Homo sapiens: one gene and its partners. The protein of the gene in region 3 purifies or fractionates together with the protein of the main gene of each other region. This does not show direct contact. Each region holds a gene or a part of one and is shown on either strand. Other genes may lie near its edges.

Region 1 (7,862 bases), on a different chromosome or scaffold from region 3:
CAGGAACGCTTATATGTAAACTCTGAGAAACAGCTCATTCAGAGGCTCAATGCAGATGTACTTAAGACAGCTGAAAAGTTGTATCGTACAGCATGGATTGCGAAGCAACAGAGAATCAATTTGGATCGGCTTATCATAACCAGGTAAAGAGATGATTTTCAGGTTTTAAGTTTTGTGAACCACTATGATTCTGTAAATAAATTAGTAACTATAAATAAATGAATCTGTTTCCAACAAAGTGCATTATTTAAGATAATTTACATCAATGTTAAGGTGAGTCTTTGCTTATAATACAGTTTATTTGGATTATTAAGTAACTTAGGCACTTTTATAGAAAATTGTAACTTAAGCATTGACATTTTATATCACACCAATTGGTTTTGTGTCTTTGTCTATATAAAATGTTATTGTTGGCTGGGCGTGGTGGCTCACACCTATAATCCCAGCACTTTGGGAGGCCAAGGCGGGTGGATCATGAGGGCAGGAGTTTAAGACCAGCCTGGCCAAGATGGTGAAACTCCGTCTCTACTAAAAATACAACAATTATCTGGGCATTGTGGTAGGCGCCTGTAATCCCAGCTACTCGGGAGGCTGAGGCAGAGAATTGCTTGAACCCGGGAGGTGGAGGTTGCAGTGGGCCGAGATTGTGCCACTGCACTCCAGCCTGGGCCATAGAGCGAGACTCTGTCTCCTCAAAAGAAAAAAAAAATGTTGTTGTAGAGAGTAAATTATCTGTTCTGCTTTTCTCCTAATATTATTTAATATATAGGTTTCCAGCTGGGTGTGGTGGCTGACACCTGTAATCCTAGCACTTTGGGAGGCCGAGGTGGGTGGATCACGAGGTCAGGAGTTCAAGACCAGCCAGGCCAAGATGATGAAACCCCATCTCTACTAAAAATACAAAAATTAGCGGGGCATGGTGGCATACGCCTGTAATCCCAGCTACTCGGGAGGCTGAGGCAGGAGAATGGCTTGAACCCGGGAGGTGGAGGTTGCAGTGAGCCAAAATCGCACCACTGCACTCTAGCCTGGGTGACAGAGTGAGACTCTGTCTCAAAAGAAAAAAAAAAAAAAAATATATATATATATATATATATATATATATATATATATATATATATATATATATATGTATTTCCATGTTTTGATATTGTATAGCTATTTTTCGGGTTTAGAAACCACATTTTATTGTCTTAATACCTACGAAGAACATTTATTTTATTTTTTTTTTTTTTTGAGTTGGAGTCTCGCTCTGTCCCCCAGGCTGGAGTGCAGTGGCACAATCTCAGCTCACTGCAACCTCTGCCTCCTGGGTTCAAGAGATTCTCCTGCCTCAGCCTCCTGAGTAGCTGGGATTACAGACTTGTGCCACCATGCCTGGCTAATTTTTGTATTTTTAGTAGAGACGGGGTTTCACCATGTTGGTCAGACTGGTCTTGAACTTCTGACCTCGCAGTCTGCCCCCTCGGCCTCCCAAAGTGCTGGGATTATAGGTATGAGCCACCCTGCCTGGCCAAGAACAGTTTTTAACTCTAAGAATATCAGTGCTGTTGAGAATATAAGCCAGATGCAAAAGAATACATACTGTATGATTCTATTTGTATGAAGTTCAAAAAGAGACAGGACTGATCTTTGATGACAGAAATCAGAATAATGGTTACTTTTTGGGCTTGAGAGGGTGGTATTGACTGGGAAAGGGCACGTGAAAGCGTTCTTGGGTTTTTAAAATGTTCCATGTCTTAATCTGAGTGGTGATTACTGGGTGCATGTATGTGTAAAAATTGTTCAAGCTGAACACTTGACATTTGTGCACTTTACTGTATTTTACCTCAATAAAAATGAGTTTAAAAAAAAAAAAGAACAGTGCTGTTGTGGGCATTGTGGTTTTTTCCCCACATCTTTTAGGCTTATTTTATTTGGATTTGTTTCCAGAAGCAAAAAGCCTAGTTAAAGGATGTGATTCTGCAGGTCATTACATACTGGCATGTTGCTGTTGAGAATGGTTGAGCAATATGCTGATATCGACTTCATTTTTATTATTTTTTAGTACTTGAGTATTTGTAAACTTTCTTATGTCCATAAATAAGCATAAGCAGTTTAACTGTAGCTGATTTTTTTTTTTTTCAGACAGGATCTGGCTGTGTCGCCCAGGCTGAAATGCAGTGGTATGATCTTGAGTCACTGCTGTCTCAAGCTCCTGAGCTCAAGCGATTTTCCCACCTCAGCCTCCTGAGTGCTGGGCCTACAGGCACACGCCACCACATCTAGCTAATTTTCATATTTTTTTGTAGAGATGGGGTTTCACCATATTTTCCAGGCTGGTCTTGAACTCCTGGGCTCAAGTGATCCTCCCACCTTGGCCTCCCAAAGTCTGGGATTACAGGTGTGAGCCACTGTGTCCTTCCTGTAGCTAATTTTAATTTAATCCATAAGAGGGCAGCTCTGGACAGTTTTTAGGATCTACAAACTGATAATTTTCTTTCTTTCTTTCTTTTTTTTTTTCCAGACAGAGTCTTGCTTTGTTGGCCAGGGTGGAGTGCGGTGGCATGATTGCAGCTCACTGCAACCTCTACCTTCTGGGTTCAAGTGATTCTCCTGCCTCAATTTTCCAAGTAGCTGGGATTATAGGTGCCTGCCACCATGCCTGGCTAATTTTTGTATTTTTAGAAGAAATGGGAGTTTCGCCGTGTTGGCCAGGCTGGTCTCGACCTCCTGGCCTCAAGTGATTTGCCCGCCTCGGCCTCACAAAGTGCTGGGATTACAGGTCTGAGCCACCGCACCCAGCCCCAATACTTTTCATTGATTCTGATTTGATAAGAGGAAATTGTCCTTTGTACTTTTTAGTTTTGTTGTCCTTTACTCATTGAGTTGCTGTTAGTTTAAAAAATTTTAGCAATTCAGAGTGACCTCATTGTTGGGACCATAATCAACTCACATATCCATGTTTGGATATAGTATATGTGTTATTATTATTAATACTATTATTTTGCTTGTTTGCTCTTTTTTTTTTTTTTTTTAGTGCTGAAGCTTCCCCTGCTGAATGTTGCCAACATGCCAAAATTTTGGAAGATACACAATTTGTTGATGGGTATAAGCAATTGGGATTTCAGGAGACTGCTTATGGAGAATTCTTGAGTCGATTGAGGGAAAATCCTCGTCTTATTGCCTCCTCTTTGGTTGCTGGAGAGAAACTTAATCAGGAGAACACACAAAGTGTTATTTACACAGTTTTTACCTCCCTGTATGGCAATTGCATCATGCAAGAAGATGAAAGCTACCTCCTTCAGGTTTTGCGATACTTGATTGAATTTGAACTTAAAGAAAGTGACAACCCTAGGCGACTTTTGAGGAGAGGAACTTGTGCCTTCAGCATCTTATTTAAACTTTTTTCTGAAGGACTGTTTTCTGCCAAACTTTTCCTCACAGCCACTTTACATGAGCCAATTATGCAACTGCTTGTTGAAGATGAAGATCACCTGGAAACAGATCCAAACAAGCTAATTGAGAGGTTCTCTCCATCTCAGCAGGAAAAACTCTTTGGAGAGAAGGGCTCAGATAGATTCAGGCAAAAAGTTCAAGAAATGGTGGAGTCCAATGAAGCAAAGCTAGTGGCTTTGGTGAACAAATTTATTGGTTATCTCAAACAGAACACATATTGTTTTCCACATAGTTTAAGGTGGATCGTGTCTCAGATGTACAAAACCCTCTCCTGTGTAGATAGGCTGGAAGTTGGGGAGGTCAGGGCAATGTGTACTGATCTCCTGTTGGCCTGCTTCATTTGTCCTGCAGTTGTCAATCCAGAACAATATGGAATAATTTCCGATGCTCCTATTAATGAAGTAGCACGATTTAATCTGATGCAGGTATGCTTTTGCTATTATTATTAACGTGGCATTTAGTTTAAAATTCAGTTGATTGGGCTGTGGGGGTGGGAACAAATAATACGATGACAGTATTTGTATATTCTTACAACTTTTTCTCAACCAGTCCTAAGTATTTGCATCTTATTAAATAAAAGCAGTAATACTGGGATTTAAAATTATTGCGGTCACAAAACATTTTGTCTTTGTCTGTTTTTTGAGACAGGGTCTCACTCTGTTGCCCAGGCTGGAGTGCAGTGGCGCAATCTCAGCTCACTGCAACCTCCGCCTCCCGGGTTCAAGCAATTCTCCTGCTTCAGCCTCCTGAGTAGCTGGGATTACAGGCGCACACCACCGCCCTGGCTAATTTTTGTATTTTTAGCCATGGGGTTAAAATTTAGGTCAGGCTGGTCTTAAACTCCTGACCTCAGATGATCCGCCCACCTCGGCTTCCCAAAGTGCTGGGATTACAGGCGTGAGCCACCACTCCTGGCCTTGGGTGATTGTTAAAAAATGATTAGCTCAAGCTGGGTGTGGTGGCTCTCACCTGTAATCCCAGCACTTTGGGAGGCCAAGGTGGGTAGATCGTTTGACATCAGGAATTTGAGACCAGCCTCAGCAACATAGTGAGACCCCCAACTGCCCCATATCTATTAAAAAAAAAAAAAATTGGCCGGGTGCGGTGGCTTACGCCTGTAATCCCAGCACTTTGGGAGGCCGAGGCGGGCGGATCACCTGATGTCCAGAGTTTGAGACCAACCTGACCAACATGGAGAAACCCCATCTCTACTAAAAATACAAAATTAGCCAGGTGTGGTGTCACATGCCTGTAATCCCAGTTACTTGGGAGGCTGAGGCAGGAGAATTGCTTGAACCCGGGAGACAGAGGTTGCGATGAGCTGAGATTGCACCGTTGCACTCCAGCCTGGGCAACAAGAGCGAAACTCCGTCTCAAAAAAAAAAAAAAAATCAGAAAAAATGATTAGCTGTTTTTAATGATCAGTTATATCACCTTGGGATGTTTAGCAATTCACTGTATAGAAATGCCTGAAATAAAATTTTTAACTTTTTTTAATGTTTATAAATTTAAAAAAATTATAATATGGAACACTTCACAAATTTGTGTGTCATCCTTGCACAGGTGCCATGCTAATCTTCTCTGTAGAGTTCCAATTTTAGTATATGTGCTTCTGAAGCGAGCACAAAATTTTTGACATGAAACAGTAGGTTTTTTTTTGTTTGTCTGTTTGTTTTGAGATAGTCTCACTCTGTCACCCAGGCTGGAGTACAGTGGTGCCATCTTAGCTCTCTGTAGCCTTTGAACTCCTGAGCTCAAGTGACCCTTCTGCCTCACCCTCCTGAGTAGCTGGGACTACAGGTGTGTACCAGCACACCTCGCTCATTTAAAAAATGTTTTTGTAGAGACAGGGTCTTGCTTTGTTGTCCAGGCTGGTCTTGAACTCCTGGCCTCAGGTAATCCTCCTATTTTGGCCTCTCAAAGTGCTGGGATCATAGGCGTAAGCTACTGTGCCTGGCCCATGAAACACTTAAATTTATTCTTATGGTAGATAATGTATTTGTAGTTTTTTTTGTTTGTTTTTTTTGTCATTCCAGTAGAGATCAAATTACATATTTTCAGAATCAGTAAAAAGGGGGCTTGTCCCAGATATTAAGAAGAGGATGTTGTAATAACTTTCATCATTAGCCTTTAAAAAGAGTGCAGTAACAAATTTTGCCAGTAAGGTACTTGTTCTATGAATTAGTATTTACTTTATCAAACCAGCTTATGTTAGGAATCATTTGCTTTTAAATCTAGGGAAAAAATTATACCTTGATTGCTTTGTGAACGCTATAAGGTAATGTTCTTAATATTAACTTAAGGCAATTTAATGAATGAGTCAGCTTTTACAAATTAATTTAAAAAGCTCTAAACAAATGAAAAGTACAATGTCAGAAACAAATGTATTGTGCTTTTTTTCCCTAATGTTGATATCTTATGTGTTAAAGAGAAATTAAAGCAAAAATTTATACTTTCTCTAACTCTTAATCTAAAAATAGTAAAAGCTGACATAAGGTACACATTTTTTGGGGGATACTATTTCATATGCCTGGTCAGGTGATATGAATAGTATTATGAAACAGATTTTTAGAACAGAATAGACGTGCTTGCTTTCATAGAGACGTATTTGTGAGTATCTGTCTGTAGCTTATGTCTCCCTACCACTGCTTTGGGTTGCAGGTAGGCCGCCTTTTGCAGCAGTTAGCAATGACTGGCTCTGAAGAGGGAGATCCCCGAACAAAGAGCAGCCTTGGAAAGTTTGACAAAGTAAGAATAAATATGATTTATAGAAAATTCTGAAGTATTAGTGAGCCTAACTGTTCTCTTTATTAAATCTTGTCCTTAGGTGATATCTAAATTAAATGTTCTTTTAATTAGCTACAGTATTGGATCAGCAGCATTTAAAGATGATTAATTCCCACAGATGTATTGAGGAGATGCCGTCGTAAGAGAATCAAAGAGCTGTTAAGATTATTTTATTTTAAAAAGTTTTTTTTTTTTTTTTTTTTGAGATGGAGTCTCGCTCCGTCGCCCAGGCGGAGTGCAGTGGCATGATCTTGGCTCACTGCAACCTCTGCCTCCGGGTTCAAGCAACTCTCTGCCTCAGCCTCCCCAGTAACTGGGATCACAGGTGCCTGCCACTACACCCGGCTAATTTTTGTATTTTTAGTAGAGACGGGGTTTCACCTTCTTGGCCAGGCTGGTCTTGAACTCATGGCCTCGTGATCCACCTGCCTCGGCCTCCCAAAGTGCTAGGATTACAGGCGTGAGCCACCGCGCCTGGCCAACTTTTAAATTTTCGAGTCAGTGTCTCACTCTGTTGCCCAGGCTGGAGTGCAGTGGTGTGATCATGGCTCAAACTCCTGGGCTCATGCAGTCCTTGCACCTTAGCCTCCCAAGTACCTGGGCTATAGGGGCACACCACCATGCCCGGCTAAGTGTTTTTATTGTTATAGAGACGAGGTCTTGTTATGTTGCCCAGACTGGTCTTGACTCCTGGCCTCAAGTGATCCTCCTGCCTCAGCATTCCAGCGTGCTAGGATTACAGATGTCAGCCACCATGCCTGGTCGATAATTGTTTAATTTTAAGTGTAGTTTATAAGTTAACATCTATGACATTGTTCAATTAATATAGTTAAATAAAATTTTAATCAGTCTTACTTTGATTAAGCTGTACATTCAACCAATGAAAATTCAAGGATATTTGAGTAAAATTTCCCTTCCACGTCTCATCTCTAGTCTTCATTCCCTGCCCCCACAAAACATTCTTTTTTTTTTTGAGACAGAGTTTCCTTCTTGTCACAGAGGTTCGCTGTTGTCACCCAGGCTGGAGTGCAGTGGCGTGATCTCGGCTCACTGTTAACTCTGCCTCCCAGGTTCAAGCAATTCTCCTGCCTCAGCCTCCGAGTAGCTGGGATTATAGGCGTGAGCCACCACGCCTGGCCCCCAAAAGATTCTTGATGTTATTAGGTTGTTTTTCCTTCTAGAGGTCCATATGTTTACAGGCAAATTCCTACGTACACTATATACTTCCAACCATCCCTTCCTTTCCCTTTCAGAAATAGTAGCACAATGTGTATACTGTTCTGTGTTGTGTTATGTTTGTCTCCAACATCTTATTGTTATTTTCTTTTTTTTTTGAGACAGGGTCTCACTTTGTCACCCAGTGATGCCATCTCAGCTCACTGCAGCCTCGACCTCCCTGGCGCAAGCAGTCCTCCCACCTCAGCTTCCCAAGTAGCTGGGACTGCAGGTGCGCGCCACCACACCTGGCTAATTTTGGTATTTTTCATAGAGACAAGGTTTTGCCCTGTTGCCCCAAGTGGTTTTGAACTTCCGAGCTCAAGCAGTCCACCCACCTTGGCCTCCCAAAGTGCTGGGATTGCAGGCATGCACTACCACACCCAGCTCCAAGATCTTAGACTATATCAGTACAAAAAGAG
Region 2 (7,000 bases), about 27 Mb from region 3:
ACAGGCGAATCTCTTGAGCCCCGGAGGCGGAGGTTGCAGAGAGCCGAGATCGCGCCACTGCACTCCAGTCTAGGTGACAGAGCAACACTCCATCTCAAAATAAAAAATAAAAATAAAATTTAAAACACATTACATCACATTCTAACAAATTCAGTAATAGGAAGTTTAAGGTAGAAATGGGTGGTTTCTCCTCTTTGCTTCTAGTCTCATTCCCCCAGAAGTAAAGTTTCTGGGTGTATCTTAGAATTTTTTCCTTGTGCTGTGAGCACATACTTTTTTTTCTTTTAAAAAAATAAATGGCAAGATTTTAGTATAGCTGTCATCTTACAATTTATAGACATCTTTCAATATTGATATGGAGAGGTCTGCCTCCTCTTTCTAACTACTGGAGATGGGCTCTACCACGGTAGGATGTGCCGTAATTTTTTCCCCAGGTATCTGCTGATGGCCAGGAAATCCTTGGACATGATTTTTTATGCCCACTACTAGGATTTCTGTAGAACCTTAACTAGAAGTGGTATTTCCAGCCCTTTACAGTTTTTACAGATATTGCACGATTGTTATTCAAGAAGTTTATACAAATTTATTCTCAGTGTACTAAGTAATTTACCTTTAAAGAATGAATTTTTGCCCTTTAAACATGTAAAGCTTTATTTACTGTGGGCCTGTACTGTGTTGGTGGCGATTTAAAGATGGAAGGGTGGTGTTCCTGCCCTTAGGGATTCTCAGCCCATATAGAAGCTGCTCAGAGCTAGGCCGGGAAAGGTTAGGGTGACCCAATGTCAGCTGGAGCCTTGTATCCAGGGGCCTGAGGGAGGGAGAGGTCAGTTTGGCCTGGCAGGGTGGCTGTGCTGAGGTGGGGGTGCTTAGGAAATGCTGACTTTGAAATCTAATTAGGTTTTTGCTAGGATTGTGAATTTTAGAAAGAGGAAATACAGGACAAAATCTTATAAGCCATTTTAAAACTCAGATATGCCCCCAAAAAAGGGGGGGGGAGGGGCACCTCTAAATAAGTTTGTGAAGAAGTAGGAGATGGTAGTGTAAGAAAATGCAGATGCACCCAAATGTTACTTCCTGGGGAGATTATTCTGTCCCATTCCCTACCCAATGGCTTACTTATTTAATATCCTCTGCTATAAACTCCCCAAGTATCCCCAAGCTATAAACTCCTTGAGGCTAGGTAGTGTCCATCTCCACTGTTGTATCCTAATACAGAATTCAGTACATGTCTGTTGAATGAATAATGAGTGATGTAATCTTCATAGGAGGAGAGAAACCAGAAGAGCAGTGATCTTGAGGTGTGTAGCAGCTCAGAGAGTTAGGTGGAGGGTTGTGCTGCAGACTGGAATTTCAGGATTGTGCGAAGTGATTGCAGTAAGAATAGTGGGGAGAGATCAGCTGACTCCCCTTGAGAGCTATAAGGGAGTGTGGACCTTCAGACAGGGAAGTCATAGGAGAATTTTAAGGAAGGAAGTAACATGATTAGCTTTGCATTTAGAAAGATGACTATCTTAGTTCAGGCTACTTTAACAAAATACAATCAACTGGGTAGTTTATAAACCACAGAAATTTATTTCTCACAGTTCTGGAGGCTGGGAAGTCCAAGATCAAGGTGCTAGCAGATTCAGTGTCTAGCGAGGGTCCATTTCCAGGTTTGTAGGTGATCCCTGCTTGTTGTGTAGAAGTGGCAAAGATCTCACTGGGACCTATTTTATAAGGTTACTAATCCCAGTTATGAGGGCTCTGCCCATGACCTCATCACTTCCCAGAGGCCTTACCATCTAATACCAATACATTGGGTTTAGAATTTCAGCATGAGAATTTGGGGGAGACAGTCAGACTGTAGCGATGATTCTGGAGTATTCATCATTTAAGAGACACTTAAAAATGATCAGAAAGGAGAGGATGAAGGCTAGAACTAAGACTTTAGCGTTGAACATGGAAAGGAAGTGATGACTGCAGATATCTCCAGTACCTGGTGACCAGATGTACAGCAGCAGTGTGACTACCGTGGGTGCAGGTACCAGTAAGCAAATAAGAACTGAAGCAGGGCAGATATTTCATTTGGGCACCCACTGAGTTTTTGGTGATGGGTATAGCTATTTGATTTTGGAGTCTAGGGTGGATTTAAGTCTGGCTTAGAAATATGGCTCTAAGGGGACATTCAGCATAAAAGTTAAAAAAAAAAAAAAAAAACCCACAGAGAAAGAGTGAGGAAAGAGGGAGGGCCAAGGGTAAAACCTTAGAACTTGAATAAGCAAAGAAGTCCCAGCACAGAAGCCAGAGGGAGAAAGAAACCAAGGAGTGTGAGGCTGGAAGAGAGAGGGTGGAAGATGCTTTACAAGAAAGAAAGTGCCAGATGCTCCTGAGTGGTCTTGCAAGTTGAGGATGGACAGCAGTCCATTCTAAGAACTGAGAATAATAGGTCTTGGATGCCACTGTAGGCTTGTAGTTTGAATTTTAAGATACATTGTTGACAAAAATAACAAAACTAGAATTACTACTTAGGTCACAATACAAAAGTATGAATGTATTAGACTTGAGTTTTTTGGTTTTGTTTTTGATTTTTTGAGACAAAATCTCCCTGCGTCACCCAGGCTGGAGTGCAGTGGTGTGATCTCGGCTTACTGCAGCCTCTGCCTCCTGGGTTCAAGCTGTTCTCCTGCCTCAGCCTCCCAAGTAGCTGGGCCTATAGGCACGAGCCACCATGTCTGGCTAATTTTTTGTATTTTTAGTAGAGATGGAGTTTCATCATGTTGGCCAGGCTGGTCTTTGAACTCCTGACCTCAAGTGATCCACATGCCTCAGCCTCCCAAAGTGCTGGGATTACAGGCATGAGCCACCACACCCAGACTTAGACTTCAGTTTTTATAGCTGTAAAAATCACAGCGTTGAATTAGATTCAAGTCCATTTTAAGTACCTGCGTGACTGCATGTGTTATGCGTAGACATATATATCTTCTTGGGACCTGGATACTATCACTGATTTACTTAATAAACACTTAGAAATGTAGCATGCTCTTCAGTACACAAGGCAGCTTCTTATATATAGGATCATAATGTGAAATATTATTATGATCATTATTATTTTGAAGCTTTTATGGATTAAACTACAAAAATAGAACAATTTAATAAACTATCATTTACCCATTACCTTCAATATTTTATAATTCTTTCATTCACTACACCTCAGTCCCTGTCTTTAAAAAAAAAATTCTGGAGTATTTTTAAGCAAATTCAAAACAATTTTATCTGCATAATTTTACAGTGTATACCTGACAGGTAAAAACTTTTAAAAAGCATAACCAAAATGTAAATATTACCGCAAAATTATCAATACCTTAATAGCATCCAGTTTCTGGTTGTTTTTGTTGGTTTTAAAATAAGCACAATGTAAACCCTGCCTTGGAATTAACAGTGATTTGTGTGCATTTTATTGGTACTGTAGTGCTATTTTATATATGTGTGTGTGTATAAATATATACACACACACATATCTATCTATATCTATATCTATATATATATGTATATATTTCTTTTTTTCTTTTCTTTTTTTAAAAATTTTATTTTACTTCAAGTTCCGGGATACATGTGCAGAAAGTGCAGCTTTGTTACGTAGGTAAACATGTGCCGTGGTGGTTTGCTGAACTATTTTGTATTTTTGAGAACAAGTCCGAGACACTGAGTGAGGGAGCCTGGCTACCTGAGAGTGACTCTTCTGTTTCAGAATAGCTTCTTTTTTTTTTTTTGACAGAGGGTTTCACTCTGTCGCCCAGGCTGAGTTCAGTGGTACAATCAAAGTTCACTGCAGTCTTGACCTCCCCAGGCTCAGGTGATTCCGCCACCTCAGCCTCCCAAGTAGCTGGGACTACAGGTGCATGCCATCATGTCCGGCAAATTTTGTATTTTTGCTAGAGATAGAATTTCACCATGTTGCCCAGGCTGGTCTCGAACTTCTGCGTTCAAGTGATCCACCCACCTCAGCCTCTGAAAGTGCTGGGATTGTAGGCATGAGCCACCATGCCCAGCCGCATTTAATAGTAAGGACACTTTTCTCCCTAGAACCCCTGAGCAAATAAGTCTCCCTTCAGTTTCTTTCTCATTAGCCCTAGTTGATTTTTCAACACAGAATTGCAGAGGAATTCCAGTGCCAATTTGCTGAGGCCAGGGTTATCTTAACCAACCATCATGGCAAGGAGGGTAGGTTAACCAGATGGAGTTAAAATAGGAGGCATCTCTGGAACTGGGAATGGGTTAGTCCATTCCTGTCACCAAACCCCTCAGGCATCACAGTGGGAGAAGGGCAGCAGGATGTCAGGAAGACCACAATTCCACGCCATGTCCTTCAGTCATCCATTACCAGCATGTACAATGAAGGAGGCCATTGTGTAACAAGGACGTAGCTGGCACAGTGCCTCATTCATGGTAGGCTCATAGCAGAAGCCCACATTAAATATTTGTTGAATGATTAAATCAAGCATGTGTAAAATATGTTCTTTAGCCTTTTTTTTTTTTTTTTTTTTTTTTTTTTGAGACGGATTCTTCGCTCTGTTGCCCAGGCTGGAATGCAGTGGCACGATCTCGGCTCACTGCAAGCTCCGCTTCCCAGGTTCACGCCATTCTCCTGCCTCAGCCTCCCGAGTAGCTGGGACTACAGGCACCCGCCACCAAGGCCTGCTAATGTTTTGTATTTTTTAGTAGAGACGGGGTTTCACCGTGTTAGCCAGGATGGTCTCGATCTCCTGACCTTGTGATCCACCCGCCTCGGCCTCCCAAAGTGCTGGGATTACAGGCGTGAGCCACCGCGCCCGGCGGTATGTTCCTTACCCTTAAGGACAAGAAATACCGTTTGAAAACATTCTTCTTGAACATTAACAAACTTAGAATGGTACATTCATTTAAGAATTAAAATAGGCACAAGAGGATTGAATTTTGGAAATATGTTGCTTAGAAATTTGGGGGCACAAGCAAGCTTGTTTTCATTGAGCTAGAAATATGTTTTAACTTTTTTTTAGATGTTATTTTCAAATTTATGTATTTTAAAAAATTTTTTTCGTACAGGTGAGGGTCTTGCAGTGTTGCCCAGGCAGGCCCTGAACTCCTGGTCTCAAGCGATCCTACCGCTTCAGCCTCCCAAGATGCTGGCATTACAGCCGTAAGCCACTGTGCCTGCCTTAAGAACTTGAAAATAAACCAAATAAGTTATTTTGTTCTTCAGCCTGTTCCACTAGGAGTGTACAATCAAATGACTGGTTTTAAAATCACTTGGATTGGTTCTCTACTTAAAACACAAGCTAGCTACCCAGTCTTGTATTTTGTATTTTTAAGAATTCTTAAAAAACTAATTTTGTTTTGTATTTGTGTAAAGCATAGTCATAATTCTAAATCAAACACACTGCATCGAGTTTATCTACTGAAATTCAGCATCTGCTTTTGTCCTCACTTTGTTATCTTCTGCTCTCATCGATTACTATTTAAAAAAAAAAAAGTGGTATGAGGCTGTCCCCAGCACTACACAGATGAAAGGGAATTATTTTTTCTTCTGTATATAGAAGCCCTTACTGCTAGCAGATTTATGGGATCAAAAGATGCATATAAAAATAATCATAGTGTAGGCCGGGTGCAGTAGCTCACGCCTGTAGTCCCAGCACTTTGGGAGGCTGAGGCGGGTGGATCACGAGGTCAGGAGATCGAGACCATCCTGGCTAACACAATGAAACCCTGTCTCTACTAAAAATACAAAAAATTAGCTGGGCGTGGTGGCGGGTGCCTGTAGTCCCAGCTACTTGGGAGGCTGAGGCAGGAGAATGGCGTGAACCCGGGAGGCGGAGCTTGCAGTGAGCTGAGATCATGCCACTGCACTCCAGCCTGGGCAACAGAGCGAGACTCTGTCTCAAAAAAACAAAAAAAAAAAACAAAAAAAAAAACATAGTGTTACTTATGTAAAAAAAAAATCTTATGGCTTATCCTTCCATTGAAAAAAATATAAACACATACTAATATATTTGTGTCTCCACTCCTTTTCTTAAACAGTGGTATACTAAAACATTTTATTTCAACTTGCTTTTTTTACTTAATGATATATCCTGGAGATCACTGCACAGGGACATATATGAAGATGTATCATTCTCTTCTGTACAGGTATACCTCAGAGATATTGTGAGTTTGGTTCCAGACCACTGCAGTAAAGTGATTATCTTAATAAAGCAAGTCACACTAATTTTTTGGTTTAATAATGCATATAAATGTTTACACTACACTATAGTTTATTAAGTGTGCAGTAGCATTATGTCTAAAAAAATGTACATACCTTAATTAAAAAGTATTTTATTGCTAAAAACTCTAATGATCATCTGAGCCTTCACTGAGTGGGAATCTTTGTTTGCCTTGATGTTGATGGCTGCTGACTGATCAGGGTGGTGGTTGCAAAAGGTTGGTGGCTGTGCCAATTTCTTTTCCTTTTCCTTTTTTTTTTTTGAGGCAGAGTCTCGCTCTGTTGCTCAGGCTGGAGTGCAGTGGTGCAATCTTGGCTCACCACAACCTCTGCCTCCTGGGTTCCACAATTTCTCCTGCCTCAGCCTGCCAAGTAGCTGGGACTACAGGTGCAGGCCACTATGCCCGCCTAATTTTTGTATTTTTAGTAGAGACGGTTTCACCATGTTGGCCAGGCTGGTCTCGAACTCCTGACCTCGTGATCTGCTCGCCTCAGCCTCCCAAAGTGCTGGGATTACAGGCATGAGCCACCACGCCCAGCCGACTGTGCCAATTTCCTAAGACAATTAAGTTTGCCCTATCAGTTGACACTTCCTGAAACATTTCTCTGTAGCATGTGATGCTGTTTGATAGTATTTTACCCTCAGAAATTCTTCCAAAATTGGTTTCAGGTGTCTGGGCATGGTGGCTCTAACTTGTAATCCTAGCACTTAGAGAGGCCAAGGCAGGAGGATTGCTTGAGTCCAGGAGTTTGAGACTAGCCTGGGCAACCTCATGAGACCCAATC
Region 3 (7,862 bases):
GCTACTCCAGAGGCTGAGCAAGGAGAATCACTTGAACCCAGGAGGCGGAGGTTGCAGTGAGCCAAGATTGCGCCACTGCACTCTGGCCTGGGCAACAGAGCAAGACTGCATCTCAAAAAATAAAATTAAAAATAAAAATCCCACTAAAACATGCATTAGTTTATGCTATGTTAATACTGGTCAACCAATTTTGTTTTTTTTTTTTGAGATGGAGTCTCCATCTGTCACCCAGGCCAGAGTGCAGTGGCGTGATCTCAGCTCACTGCAACCTCCGTCTCCTGGGATCAAGCAATTCTCCTGTCTCAGCCTCCCGAGTAGCTGGGATTGCAGGCACCTGCCACCATGGCCAGCTAATTTTTGTATTTTTAGTAGAGACAGGATTTCACCATGTTGGCCAGGCTGGTGTCAAACTCCTGATTTCAAGTGATCCGCCCGCCTTGGCCTCCCAAAGTGCTGGGATTACAGGTGTGGCATGAGCTACCACACCCGGCCAGTCAACCAAAATTTTAAGAGCCATCTGAGATTGAAATTAGAAACAAAAACAGTAACACAATAAAGCATCATTTTACCTGTGTGCATACACTGAACACCAAGTTAAATGATGAAAGTTATGAAGACACTCATTCTTGACAGCAAAAATCCCTGGTGAACAGTGACAGATCATGAGAAAACCAAGACTTAATGATATTTTAGGTACAGCTTAAATATACTTTAAAACAAAATGATCTAGCCAGGTGCGGTGGCTCACGCCTGTAATCCCAGCACTTTGGGAGGCCGAGGCAGGTGGATCACTTGAGGTCAGGAGTTCGAGACCAGCCTGACCAATATGGTGAAACCTCATCTCTACTAAAAAAAATTAGCCAGGCATGGTGGTATATGCCTGTAGTCCTAGCTACTCAGGAGGCTGAGGCAGGAGAATCACTTGAACCTGGGAAGTGGAGGTTGCAGTGAGTCAAGATCACGCCATTGCATCCCAGCCTGGGCAACAGAGAAAGACTGCATCTCAAAAAAAAAAAAAAAAAAAAAAAAAGATCTAGGTCCAGAAATGACTAAAGCCAAGGATCCTTGATCCCTGGGCCACTGACCGGTATCCAGTATAGAAGCGAAGTGAAGCTTCATCTGTATTTACAGCCACTCCCCAAAGCTGGCATTACCGCCTGAGCTCAGCCTCCTGTCAGATCAACAGAATTAGATTCTCATAGGAACGCAAACCCTGCTGTGAACTGCACATCAGAGGGATCTAGGTTGTGCATTCCTTATGAGAATCTAATGCCTGACGATCTGTTACTGTCTCCCATGACCCCCAGATGGAAGCAGGTAGTTGCAGGAAAGCAAGCCCAGGGCTCCCATTGATTCTACATCAAGGTGAGTTGTATAATTATTTCATTATATGTTACAATGTAATAATAATAGAAATAAAGTGCACAATAAATGTAATGCACTTGAATCATCTCAAAATCATTCCCACCCCCACCCCACCCCCTACTTGCTCCAGTCTGTGGAAAAACTGTCTTCCACGAAACCTGTCCCTGGTGCCAAAAAGGCTGGGGACCACTGACTAAAGCCAAGGAATAACCCACATACTTTACATGGGTTCAAGCATTTACTCCGAAATGAGATACAAATTTATATATATATATATATATATATATATATATATATATATATATATATGTATATATATATATATATATATATATATATATGTATATATATATATATATATATTTTTTTTTTTTTTTTTTTTTGAGACAGAGGCTCGCTCTGTCACCCAGGCTGGAGTGCAGTGGCATGATCTCAGCTCACTGCAACCTCTGCCTCCCGGGCTCAAGCAATTCTCCTGACTCAGCCTCCCAAGTAGCTGGGACTACAGGCACACACCACCATGCTTGGCTAATTTTTGTATTTCAGTAGAGATGGGGTTTCACCATGTTGGCCAGCCTGGTTTCGAACTCCTGACCTCAGGTGATCCGCCCGTCTTGGCCTCCCAAAGTGCTGGGATTACAGGTGTGAACCACTGCGCCTGGCCACAAATTAATAATTTCCAGCAAGTTTTTATCCTGCAATCCACAGATTCAAAAGGGAGAATAAGAACACCCTGAATCGTAAGCATCTAATTAAATACAAATAGGTTACTTATATTTATGTAAGAGCTCTTCAGCTTGTCTATGAGGCAAAATGCCAACAAGTGAAGAAGTACAGGATGGCTCTCCAGTATCAAATGAAACGATGTGGAGTGTGTGAGAGGGCATGATTTGACCTTGACATAAGGGTGATAATGATTCTCAGAAGAACTGGAAGTTAGGACACTCCAGTAACTCCCCTGAGATTCAACAGTCTAATTTGTATTAGTAGGAATAGGGCTATATACATCTCTAACATTTTGTCCAGCTTAAAATGCTACCTAGCATTATTACATTATCTCATAAGCCAGTATAAAGCAGCTCTAGTATACCATGAATTCAGTTTCCCTTCAAGTTAAAAAGCACATTTCTCGTGATCTGTGACGTACGTTTTTCTGGTTTTTTTTTTTTAGTCCAAGCTAAGCATGGACACTGTAATATATCTTAATGAAGACATATCCAATGCAGCGTCATCTTTATTCTCTGATAACAGCCATTATGTTATTCACAGGATATATGCTCAGTGCCAAAGATAAGATTAAGCTGCTTTTAAAAGTGAAGAGTAAGGATTAACTAGTGCTTTATAAATACGTTCTAAAACATTTGACCTTCAGACACAGAGGGCAAAAATAGTGATTAAAACACACTAGGCAGCTGGGAGAGGTGGTATTCATCTGCAGTCCTAGCTACTCAGGAGGCTAAGAGGCAGGAGGATCATTTGAGTCCAGGAGTTTGAGGCTGTAGTGTGCTATTATCATACTTCTGAATAGCCACTGCACTCCGCCCGGGTGACAGAGCAAGAACCTGCCGCTAAAAATAAAAATAATAAAAGATGAAAGAAAAATAGGAAAAACAAGAAAGGAAGGCAAGTAGTAGACACAATATCAAACTGCTGGAATGCTTTTTTTCTAGCTACTATCCTTTGAAAATAGGTCTTAAAATTCCAGGACTAAAAGTCCTTAGGATCAATGAGGCCAGTGACACTTTTAAGTAGGGAACCCTTGTTCAAACAAAACCCTACCCAAAAGCTCAGTATGCAAAGGCAAATGGAAATGAGTATTTAGCTGGCAAAAGAAGGGTAGGCAGCCCTAAATCTTTCTATTCAGCACTCTCCTTCCCATTAGAACAATCCTTTTTTTATGTTCTAAATGAGGAAACAGATGGGCTTACACACATTAAGGAACTGACTGACTGTAGATGACCCAGTCAATATCACATGGCAGATCTACAGCTCAAACCTCCAAAACCTATCTAGATAAAGAATTTTTCGGTATGTCATAGTTGTTTCTTGGGTCATTGCACGGTGGCTGATGCCTATAATCCCAGCGCTTTGGGAGGCTGAGGCAGGAGAAGTACTTGAGCTCAGGAATGCAAGACCAGTCTGGGCAATATAGCAAGAGCCCATCTATATAAAAAAAATTTAAAAAAATTTTTAAATTGTTCCTTTGGAGAACTTAATTCAATTTAGAATGGAACACACAAAAAAAGGTTTTAACAGAAACTCAATACAGCTGACCCTTGAACAAAAGGGGCTTGAAATGCACAGGTCCACTTGTACACAGGTTTTTTTCTGCCTCTGCTACCCAAACAAGATCAACCCCTCTTCTTCCTCCTCAGCCCAAAGTGAGGATGATGAGGGTAAAGAGCTTTATATATATATATATATATATATATATAGTTATTGACCAATCATGTTATTGGTGAAGCTTCCAGTGAACAGTAGGCTAGTAGTAGTTAAGCTTTTGGGGAGTCAAGTTATACTTGGGGCCAGGTGCAGTGGTCCATGCCTGTAATCCCAGCACTTTGGCGGGCCGAGGTGGGTGGATCATCTGAGGTCAGGAGTTTGAGACTAGCCTGGCCATCACTGTGAAACCCCGTCTCTACTAAAAATACAAAAATTAGCTGGGTGTGGCGGCGCGCCTGTAATCCCATGAACCTGGGAGGCAGAGGTTGCAGTGAGCCAAGATCACACCATTGCACTCCAGCCTGGGTGACAGAGCAAGACTCCATCTCAAAAAAAAAAAAAAAGTTACACTTGGATTCCTGACTGTGGGGCACAGTGGGAGTGGGCTGGGGTTCAGTGCCCCTAACCCCAGCACTGTTCAAGGGTCAACTGTAATTTTAAGTGAGCTCTCACATATTAATTGACAAGGTCCAAGAATTTTCTTTCTTTTTTTTTCCCCTGCCTCAGGTTTATTTGTACTAATAGCACAGGAGGACCCCAGCCCCATAAAGACGGCAGCCCAGGGGGGTTGCATCAGTCCTTCTGTCCTCACGTTGGCAGACAGAGATACCTACTCCGAAGCCTTTGTAGGGGCCTGAGAGCCTTTGGGAGGAGCCTGAGCTGGAACTGAAGCTGGAGCTGCAGCCTGGGCCTTGGTTGATCCTTGGCCTTTGGCCCACACAGTCTGAGCCCCTTGGCAATGCGGACACAAGCACACTTCCCAAGCTTGGGGTGGACAATGTAGGCAAGTCAATCGAGTTCGCAGCTGACACCCTTTGGGATCTTGGGCTTAACCTCCTTGGGCTTTACGAGGGCCCTGCTAGCCTCAGCAAGTGCACTCATTGCCTTGGCATTGTTGGCCTGCATCTTCTTTAGGCCCTTCTTGTGCTTCTTGGCAAAGTGCATGTTCCTCAGGAACCTGGAGCCCACCATTTCTGTGCCATTTTCAGGACTGGTTGTGTGTGGTGTGGTTCGTGGACTTGGCCATGTCTGTACCTTAAGCCGCGGCTCTCCAAGTGCCTAGAACCGGAAGCTTCATTTCTTAAAATATCAAGAAAATGGATGCCATTCTCTTATCCTTGCTTTTTTTTTTTTGATACGGAGCCTCATTCTGTCGCCCAGGCTGGAGTGCAGTGGCACGATCTTGGCTCACTGCAACCTCCGCCTCCCATGTTCAAGCAATTCTCCTGCCTCAGCCTCCTGAGTAGCTGGCACTACAGGCGCACGCCACCACACCAGGCTAATTTTTTTTTTTTTTGTATTTTAGTAGAGACAGGGTTTCACCTGTCTCTACTACCCAGGCTGGTCTCCAACTCCTGGGCTCAGGCAATCTGCCCACCTCGGCCTCCCAAAGTGCTGGGATTACAGGCGTGAGCCATGGCGCCCGGCTTATCCTTGCTCTTTACTCAGGATGCTATGCTTCTTAACAATAGGTCTCTCAAATTACACAGGAAGGACCTGATTCAGCAGGTCATCTACGCAGGCCAGGTAATTTTCAGTCTCTGTTGTAAGATATACCAAAGTATCTTAAAGAAAATCCTGGCTGGGTGCGGTGGCTCATGCCTGTAATCCAAGCACTTTGAGAGGCCGAGGCGAGCAGATCACGAGGTCAAGAGATGGAGACCATCCTGGCCAAAATGGTAAAGCCCCATCTCTATTAAAAATACAAAAATTAGCTGGGCGTGGCAGCACGTGCCTGTAGTCCCAGCTACTCAGGAGGCTAAGGCAGGAGAATTGCTTGAACCCAGGAGGTGGAGGCTGCAGTGAGCCAAGACTGTACCACTGCACTCCAGCCTGGTAACAGAGTGAGACTCCATGTCAAAAAAAAAAAAAGCAAATCCTATAGGGAATTTTGTAACAGAAAACATAGGGAAGGGATTGAACAAATTTGTATATGAAGGATAAAGGCAGCAAAATCTAAATTTTTTAAATTAGTGACAATACTTCTAAAACAATAGATAACACATAACTTTTATCTAGCTAACACTAAATAGTCAACTTAATTCAATACTTTCCGAGTAAATATTTATTAAGTATGTACCATGTATAGGTGATACAGAAATAGTGGGGAACAAACTGAGGGGGATGGGAAGATGCTGCTACCCAAATAAAGAATGTTTACATAAATCTTTATCCTTTTTGCTTCAGTGGAAACAGTTTTTTTTTTACATTTCACTTTAAAACCAATGAACCACTTTTGTTTCCATGTACCTGACCCTACCACTCCTAAAGCAAATTTACCCTTTCCACACTCTCATCCAATTACTGTGTTCTCCTTTAGAGACTACACCCAGAAGCCACACTCTATTCTTGGATGCCTTACCAAACCAGTTCACCAAGCTTTCTTCCTTAGAGCCAGATCCTGAAATCCCATCTCTCAGGAAGCCTTAACTTGAAAGTCAGGTTAATCTGTTTAGCCTCACCCACAGACAGCTTATAACTACCATAACTCTCTCTGCACTCACCACCTTATAATAGGCACCTATTACTATAATTCTGCTCAGAAGTTAATTTATTCATGTGCTTATTCAGTACATTACTCATTGCCCTTATGGGTCTGTATCAGGTCTTAAATAAAAGCTACCAGATAAAAGGACATGTACTGTACTTGGGTTTAGCACTGAAAAATGACAATGCTTAATGCTTTTTGAAACTGATTTCAAATACATTAAATTTAACCTGATTTGTGAAATTTATAAAATCTCCCAACATAGATGAATCTCAAAAACATTATGTTAAGTGAAAAGTGCCAGACACAAATGACCTCATATCGTATGATTCCATTTATATGAAATTCTAGGAAAAACTATAGTAATGGAAAGCAAATCAGGGGTGAGGGGCCTTATTTTCCCACATAGTAGGTTTTTTTTTTAAAGGCAAGAATGATTTAAAAACTTCAAATCTATATCATCTCAGATTTAATCTTCACCTCATAAGATAAATTTGCAACTTTCTTCCAAATGATTTACTTGCTCATTTACAACCAATAGCACATTTTATCACTCAATTCTCCATTAAAACTGTAAATCAGCATTGGAACTTTGTTTTTTTTTTTGTTGTGTTTTTTTGTGTTTTTTTGAGATGGCGTCTCGCTCTGTCACCAGGCTGGAGTGCAGTGGCGCCATCTCAGCTTACTGCAACCTCCGACTCCCGGGTTCAAGCTATTCTCCTGCTTCAGCCTCCCGAGTAGCTGGGATTACAGGCACGTGCCACCATGCTCAGCTAATTTTTGTATTTTTAGTAGAGACGAGGTTTCACCACGTTGGCCAGGCTGGTGTTGAACTCCTGACTTAAAGTAACCTGCCTGCCTTGGCCTCCCAAAGTGCTTGGATTACAGGCGTGAGCCACCACGCCTGGCTGGAACTCTTTTTAAGGACAGTTTTATTTGAGTTGTTTCCATGTAAAGACTATGCAACCCAGTCCTTAATTCAAGACATGAAAAATACAAACTGGAATAGAAAAAGGGGCTAACAGGCTGGGCCCGGTGGCTCACGCCTATAATCCCAGCACTTTGGGAGGCTGAGGCAGGTGGATCACCTGAGGTCAGGAGGTGGAGACCAGCCTGGCCAACACGGCAAAACCTCAGCTCTACTAAAAATACAAAAATTAGCCAGGCGTAGTAGTGCAGCTCTGCAATTCCAGCTACTTGGGAGGCTGAGGCAGGAGGATCACTTGAACCTGGGAGGCGGAGGCTGCAGTTAGCCAAGGTTGCGCCACTGCACTCTAGCCTGGGCAACAGAGTAAGGCTCCGTTTCAAAAGAAAAAAAAGCCGGGCACAGTGGCTCATGCCTGTAATCCCAGCACTTTGGGAGGCCGAGGCAGGCAGATCACCTGAGGTCAGGAGTTCGAGCCCAGCCTGGCCAACGTGGTGAAACTAAAATACAAAAATTAGCTAGGCGTGGTGGCGGGCGCCTGTAATCCCAGCTACTCAGGAGGCTGAGGCACGAGAATCACTTGAACCCGGGAGGCAGAGGTTGCAGTGAGCCAAGATCGTGCCATTCATTGCACTCCAGCCT
Region 4 (7,862 bases), on a different chromosome or scaffold from region 3:
AGATATATTTGGGTAGCTTGAATGATACATCCACACTTTTTTCTTTCTACTTTTCATTGTTTCAAACTTTTTTCAGTAAGTTTATGATATTTTTATAATTTATAGAAAATAAATTTAAGAAATGGCTGGGAAGGAATTCACATTTACAGAACTGACCACAGATTTACTCAGTATTGATGCTTAAAGACAAGTTTCTGTTAGCAATGTATTGAAGAAAAAAATTGGAACTTCAGTGAACAGATTGTTTTCTAGTATAAGTGGTGGCTTTTTAGAGGTGTACTATTTTAATTTTGTATAATTTATATATAAGCCAATGCAGAAATATACATATTTATCGATATTTGAGCTAAAAATATTTATATTTTATTTTGGAACAGGTTTTATGGACTTAAACTAGGCCCTGCAGATAGCTAGAATCTAGATAGGCAAAGGAGAGAAGTTTTTCTCTAGTGCAAGTAAATAGCATGGGCAAAAGCTTGGAGAAGAAAAAAATGTGTAATATATTTGGGAGACTTTGTAGAAGCTAGCAGTATTGAAGGTTTGTACTGGTGAGCTTTTGGTAGGTAAGTGAGGGCTATATTGCAGAGAAATTTAAATCCCAGAACTAAAAAAAAAAAAAAAAAAAGGAGTTTTGGCTTTACCCTTTAGAGAGAATAGAAAGCTATTCTCAAAGCATTAGAATATTAAAGTGATATTAAGAAAGTATGTTATAACATTTATCACTTATAGATAATAAACAAAATTAGTCATTCCCTCCACAAAATAAAAAAAAGTAATAGTTCTGTGTAATGTCAAATCAAAATGATCATATCTCTCTTGAATATGTTCTTTCTCATTTTCTCATCCTCTACTTCAGGTTTGGTAACAAAGAGGAATACATGGCATTCATGAATGATTTTTTAGAACATGAATGGGGTGGAATGAAGCGCTTTCTTTTGGAGATCTCTAATCCAGACACCATCTCAAACACCCCAGGCTTTGATGGTTACATTGATCTGGGCCGAGAGCTTTCAGTTTTGCATTCCTTACTGTGGGAAGTAGTTTCCCAACTTGATAAGGTAAAGTAGGTTGGTGGAAGATAGAGAACTTTAATGTACCTGAATTCTGGAAAGTAACTATAGAGTGATAGCACTCACTCTTTCTGCTAATTGAAAGCAACTGTTTACCCTAGAAATCTGAGAGTAAATGGTCATCATTTCTGAGTAAAATATGAGATCGACAACCATGAAACTCTAGAAAACCATGACATTATTAATATATGTTTTTAATAATTATCTGAATTAATGGAGTATATTTCTCTAAATTTATATATACAGAGTGCATATCTGAAAACTTGACTAGAAACTAATATATTGGTATATACAGCCTTATGCATGTCTAATAGGATAAGATGAAACCTCATATAGTAATTTCTAATAAAAGTATAGATTTAGCTAAGAAAATACTAGGTTTATCATGTTTTAAGTAACTACCCATGAAACAAATTTTTTTACTATACAAGTCATAGAGTTTCATATAATTATTAGTGCTAACAGTCATTGTTTTCTTTCTTTACAGATGTGAATTAAGAATACAGAAAGCAATTATTTTTAATCGTTTGCTAAGAATTTTATTATATACCGTATTAATAAGTAAATATACACCATGCCAATCATTTTCTTCCTTCTGGAATTTAACAAAAAGGAATAGATTTGGTAGTAAAAAATAGTCTAAAAGACGTTGGCTAGGCTTATTACAATAATTATTTATTGATGTTTTTGTTTGCTACAGGCACTTTATAAATATGTGTGGTGGTATGTTAGAATAACTTCAAAAGACAGTCATTTTTCTATGATAATGATCTACTTATTTTCCTCTATTTTCCTATCAATAAAAATGCTATATCAGTAAAATTTGAAGGGGAATAAAACCTATTAACAAAGACCACTTTGCTGAGGAAACATATGTGGTAATGTGTCCTCCAGTGCTTAAAATATTTGTAAAACAATAAACTGTTCCTTATTCTCGAGGACCTTTTCTTCACTTTTAGAAATGCTAGCTAGATTTTTAAGTTGCAGCTATGCCAAAGATAAACCCTTTTCATGTGAATCGTAGCCCAACATTATTGAGCAAGTAAAGGCCTTGGTGGCATCTATCCCTGTTTGAGTAGGGTAGAAGAGTCTGTTGATTGTTGAGAAGGCAAAGACCCAAAGGCAGCTATGCCAAACTGACTGACAGTTGAAGGGGACCCCTAAGACCCCATGAGAATAAGAATTCCCTAAATAAAAAAATGATTGAAATGGATAAAGCAAGTATTAAAGAGTTCGTCTTTGTTGAATAACTGCATCTCAGTGGAATGCAGATTCAGTTTTCCTGTGAAATGGGCCTGGTTTATTCAGGATCAAAGTCTTTTTAACGGGCTTTGCTATGTAAACACACTTTCTCCTTTTTAATCTGTGTTTGGTCCTGGGAACCAGGAATACATCTAGACATATCTCATAGAGGAAGTTTACCTGATTTTGCTGTTAAATTAACAATAAAAATTGTCTTACTGATGGAAACTCAGTTGGCAGTGGGTCAGGGTTCCCAAGATTGACTGGGATAGTGGATGGCAGTATCATCTGTGTGCCCTGCAGTACTCTGGATTCCTGAATGAGCACCTTCTTATATGTTGGCATGCATTTCTTTTCTCACATGATCCCTTTTCTTTGAAAGTTTATCATACTAGTTGATCCTCTGATCTTGAAGTTCTTTTGGTTAGAAGGAATTTGGTTCTGCCTCCACCCTCCCCCACCTTGATCTACTAGCCTCCCAAAGATTTAGTTTGCTTCGCATGCCTATTTTAGTTGGAATGGCATTAGTTTGGTAGTTTTGAGCATGTCTTTTAATTTTTACTTGCATAATCCTGATTTCGATTTCCTTTCTTTCCTCGATGTCTGCCGCACCTTGTTTCGCCTCCTCCATTCATCTCGACGCCATGGTTCTGCTGCTCCATAACAATGCATTATGAACCTGCCACTCCCATATGCAAACACTTACCCTTCCCTCCAACCTACACCCCTCCATCAATGGCCATCGTTGTGCCAAAAACAATCTGTGGTGGATGTCGCAATGCTTATTATCCAATTAGGGTGAAAATTCCTTCCTACAGGCGACCGTGGCAAAATTGGGGCCTCTCCCTCGTGTTCTTGCTGATATTACCAAGTCATTGACTAATCCTACGCCAATACAACAGCAACTGAGACGCTTCACTGAACATAACTCCAGTCCAAATGTCAGTGGAAGCCTCTCCTCTGGGCTGCAGAAAATATTTGAAGACCCCACTGACAGGTATGAAAGAGAGAATTTGACCACTATCTCGGAGAAACATAATGTTTAGATTTAGCAGAAGTATATTCAACCTATTTGTTGAATTTACAAGTTTAAAATCATGAGCAACTGAAGACTCATCTGACCTGAGAGCAGTCCAATTATTTGTCATAATAATGCACAAGATCTGGGATGACTTATTTTCTAGAATGGTAGTATAGAGAGTTACAATATATTCCACAAGCATATTTTTAAAATTTCTGTCTTGCTTAGTGGAAGACTAAAGGCTTTATGAAATTCATGTTTCTGTACGTTATAGCATTCAAAATCTTGGAGAACCTCGGTTAAAACCATTTTATAGCTGGCTATGTCAACTGGACAGGTAGATACAATGTCGATGCTTAGACTGTTTTAGGGATTGGCAAGACTTGTGCCTTTTGCAGGGACCTTTCAGTTGTGTGCTTAGAACTTCTTCTCTTGAAGGTTTAGACAAGTAAGTATGAATTGGAATATTTGGGGAAGGTTTAAAACCTAACTAGGAAATTATTGGAATCCTGGTTAAAACTGAAGACAGTGATGGGTTGGTATCTACAGTGTTATTCTGTACCTTTGGGGAAAAAGTAAAAATGCTGGATTTTATTCTAAGCATTGTAATAATTCCCTAATTAGATAAAATCTGAGTTTCCAAAGAAATGTACGTATCCACATAAGAACCTTCGGAGGAGTTCATATGCCTGAATTGAGGCATCTTAGCCATGTTGAAGTTGTCTCAAGAGAAATTAAGTGTCCTTTCCTTTTCCACAGTGATTTGCATAAACTAAAATCTCCAAGCCAGGACAACACAGACAGCTACTTCAGAGGGAAAACATTATTGCTGGTTCAGCAAGCCTCCTCTCAGAGCATGACTTATTCTGAAAAGGATGAAAGGGAAAGTAGCCTTCCTAATGGTCGGAGCGTCTCCCTCATGGACCTCCAGGACACTCATGCTGCTCAAGTGGAGCATGCATCTGTCATGCTTGATGTGCCTATACGCTTGACCGGAAGCCAGCTTTCCATAACCCAGGTGGCCAGCATCAAACAGCTGCGGGAAACCCAGAGCACTCCCCAAAGTGCACCCCAAGTGAGAAGGCCCCTGCACCCAGCCTTGAACCAGCCAGGTGGCCTTCAGCCCTTGTCGTTCCAGAACCCTGTCTATCACCTCAATAACCCAATTCCAGCAATGCCAAAGGCCTCTATAGATTCCAGTTTGGAGAACCTAAGCACTGCCAGTTCCAGAAGCCAAAGTAACAGTGAAGACTTCAAGCTCAGTGGACCCAGCAATAGCAGCATGGAAGATTTCACTAAACGTAGCACTCAGAGTGAGGACTTCTCCAGGCGGCACACGGTGCCAGATAGACACATACCTCTTGCTTTGCCACGACAAAATAGTACTGGGCAGGCCCAGATCCGAAAAGTGGACCAGGGTGGGTTAGGTGCCCGAGCCAAAGCCCCACCATCCCTGCCACACAGTGCTTCTTTACGTAGCACCGGGAGCATGTCAGTGGTGTCCGCAGCCCTGGTGGCCGAACCTGTGCAGAATGGGAGCCGGTCCCGGCAGCAGTCCTCTTCCTCCAGAGAGAGCCCTGTTCCCAAAGTTAGAGCAATCCAGAGACAACAGACACAGCAGGTAGGTGTGAGTGCTGAAGGGGCCTGGCTTCTACTTGGTCCATCTGTTTCCTTGGTTCTTTATACATAAATCATTGGGAAATCCTATTGTTAACAAGATTTCCTCTTAAAAGCAACCTTTAAATGGAAAGAGGAAAGGAAAAATTTGGGAGGCTTCTGCCCAGGTGTGACTACAGAATGTAGTTTGACTCATTACCCTTAAGAGTCTAACAAACACGCAGAGGCCCCCTTCCTTCTCTTCAAGCAGCAGAGCTGCTACCTCAGTTTGCACTTAGAGCAAATCTATGATGTTGAATGAATAATTAGATACTTAAAATCTGTAGGCAAAACCAGCTATTATTTTGGAAATCTGAAAATTAATCCTTCTTAATTTTTTTTCTTAAGCTTCCAGAATAAAGGTTTGCATTCCGAGCCAAGAGTTTAATATGACTGCTCTCCATTCCATCCCTCAACTCCTTCTGGAAATACAAAGTCCCATGTGGCTTTTCCTGGAAATAGCTAGAAAAATAAACACTTGAACACCTGTAGAGTCAAGGTAAAGGAGAGAGTAAAAAGATAGAAGCACAGGTGGAAAAGGAAGTATTCTAAACATCTGCAAATCCCTTACATTTCTATTTACATGGACAAGCCCAGCTAACATCACATCCAATCTTAATATAAGTTTTTCTAATTTTTTTATTGACAAATAAAAAGCTTTGCCAAGAAACTAATCATTTCTTCCTTAAATATTACATTTTGAAGCATCAATACATATTTTTCCCTTTGAAACAAACTACTGTTAAATATATAATATACACATTCATATAATTTTTCATGTATATAATATATATCTTTATATATCTTTCATCTAAAAAGATTTTTCTCCTAAAAAAGCATTGTATTAGTTGAATTTTTTTTGAAACCTAATGATAGTACTAAAAAACTTGAGATTAAAAGAGTTCTATGACAAATCCTTTTATGCAGCAAAATAACTGGGCAGGGAGACTGCAATAAAATCCTAGTTTGTATCTGTTATATATTTGCATTTTTACAGTTTAGGCACTTACCTATATGGCTGCCTCTGCCTCCAGTCTGCTATGATCAGAGCCCCTTGCACCTACTTTGATTTTTTAATTGGATTATTTATAGAATCCTTGGATACAGAAATAGAAGAAGGGATGAAAAGCATGACTAACTTAAGCTGTTTCTGGAAGCAGACTTCCTGGGCTAAACCTCCTAGTTGGTCATTTTTTACTGAGTAATAAAGTTTTTCTACAGTCTTAAATTTTTCATTTTTATTTTGTTATATTTCCCAAAATTTTACCAAATCATTTGATTTAGTAAGCATTTTTATTTGAAGAAAAGGAAAAATAGATATCTTTTATATGTATCATATGTATTTTTTATATATAAATGTGTATGTGTATATAAGCATAAAATGTATGTGTTAGAAGGCTATCAGTCATTCCTACCTTATTGTGAAGTAGTTTCCTCACATCACTTTTGTGCTAGATTCTAGTTGCGATCAACTACTTTCAGAGAATTAAGATGTTTATTGGGAGGAGAAAGGAAAAAATACATAATTTTAGAAATCAGAATACTGTGTAGAAGCAAATATCTACTCAGGGACTTAGGGCAGCACAAGGGCACTGAAGATAAAATAGGATTAGCGAAGAGCATGAGATCTGGCAGAGAGGGACAGGACAGGGAAAGTGTCCTCCACCTGCTTTTCAAAAGTGTACTTAGGCCCAGCCCTGTACAGAAAAGGAAAATAAAGATTCTTTTTTTTTTCTTTTGCTTACCCTTTCCTTCTGTATCATGGAGGGCCTATGACTCAGGCTGGTTGTTTATTAATATTATAAATTAAATAGCCTTTTTTGTGCTCATCTGGAACCAGTTGTCATTTATAACATTTTTTCTTTAGGAAAATACAATACCTATCGCATAAGCACATAATACATGTTTCTGTGGGTTATGATTAGAGGGCTGCCTGGATGGATGGGAGGTAGGAAATGCATACAGTCTCCAAACAACCAATATAAAAATTAGTTTTTGTGTCACAGCCATTAATGAGTCACCAAATATATTTTTTGGCATGAAGTGGGGTACAGGCACAGTGAGATGTCCAGGTACAGCTTTGAATATTAATCTTTGTTTATACTTTTGCTGGTACTGCCACTGTCCTATCAGTTGAAGCATAAATCACCGTATTTTGATTGCTCAAGTTTCTTTTTTTTTTCCTACACTGGCTTTTGGTTCATTGTTTTGAACTTACATTGTTAGTTTTTTATTTTTATTTTTATTTTTTTGAAACAGAGTCTTGCTCTGTCGCCTAGGCTGGAGTGCAGTGGCACGATCTCGGCTCACTGTAACTTCCGCCTCCCAGGTTCAAGCAGTTCTCCTGTCTCAGCCTCCTGAGTAGCTGGGATTACAGATGCCCACCACCACGCCTGGCTAATTTTTGTATTTTTAGTAGAGGTGGGGTTTCATCATGTTGGCCAGGTTGGTCTTGAACTCCTGACCTCAAGTGATCCACCTGCCTCGGCCTCCCAAAGTGCTTTGATTACAGGAGTGAGCCACCGTGCCTGGCCTAGTTTTTTATTTCTTATCTGTTTCTTGCTTGCTTTGTTCATCTCACTCCCATGAAGCCTCTGAAGTTCTATATAATCAGCACATTTTTAAGGCAAATTCCTTTACATATTTTAATTGCAAATTGTGTTGGGGAATTCTCTCCCAGAAACTAGAGGATTTCTTTGTGGGGATTGTTCTGTAGGCGGCTGTAATTATCAGTAGCTTTGTCCCATGCAAATTCCATTTATATCTTAGCACAAAGTAGTGGCCATTGTCTGCAGAGTAACTGGCTTCAGTCTTCTACGTCTAATGAGTAGGAAGGAAATAAAATCCTGGTGAAAAAATTCACAGATAAATTT

What was found.
Region 1: the proteins of CSNK1A1 (region 3) and GAPVD1 purify together in Homo sapiens (affinity purification with mass spectrometry; 7 studies listed by BioGRID and IntAct, with this or other methods). This does not show direct contact.
Region 2: the proteins of CSNK1A1 (region 3) and SNX24 purify together in Homo sapiens (affinity purification with mass spectrometry; 5 studies listed by BioGRID and IntAct, with this or other methods). This does not show direct contact.
Region 4: the proteins of CSNK1A1 (region 3) and RASAL2 purify together in Homo sapiens (affinity purification with mass spectrometry; 5 studies listed by BioGRID and IntAct, with this or other methods). This does not show direct contact.

What each region holds. Positions count from the first base shown.
Region 1 is NC_000009.12:125,298,964-125,306,825, forward strand, and holds part of GAPVD1 (GTPase-activating protein and VPS9 domain-containing protein 1), read left to right. Parts: coding exon 1-143; intron 144-3,019; coding exon 3,020-3,863; intron 3,864-6,099; coding exon 6,100-6,186; intron 6,187-7,862. UniProt on the Homo sapiens protein: Acts both as a GTPase-activating protein (GAP) and a guanine nucleotide exchange factor (GEF), and participates in various processes such as endocytosis, insulin receptor internalization or LC2A4/GLUT4 trafficking.
Region 2 is NC_000005.10:122,848,613-122,855,612, forward strand, and holds part of SNX24 (sorting nexin-24), read left to right. Parts: intron 1-7,000. UniProt on the Homo sapiens protein: May be involved in several stages of intracellular trafficking.
Region 3 is NC_000005.10:149,540,966-149,548,827, forward strand, and holds part of CSNK1A1 (casein kinase I isoform alpha), read right to left. Parts: intron 4,880-7,862; exon of another isoform or gene 4,305-4,879; intron 1-4,304.
Region 4 is NC_000001.11:178,453,591-178,461,452, forward strand, and holds part of RASAL2 (ras GTPase-activating protein nGAP), read left to right. Parts: intron 1-856; coding exon 857-1,058; intron 1,059-3,109; coding exon of another isoform or gene 3,110-3,130; coding exon 3,131-3,309; intron 3,310-4,092; coding exon 4,093-4,954; intron 4,955-7,862. UniProt on the Homo sapiens protein: Inhibitory regulator of the Ras-cyclic AMP pathway.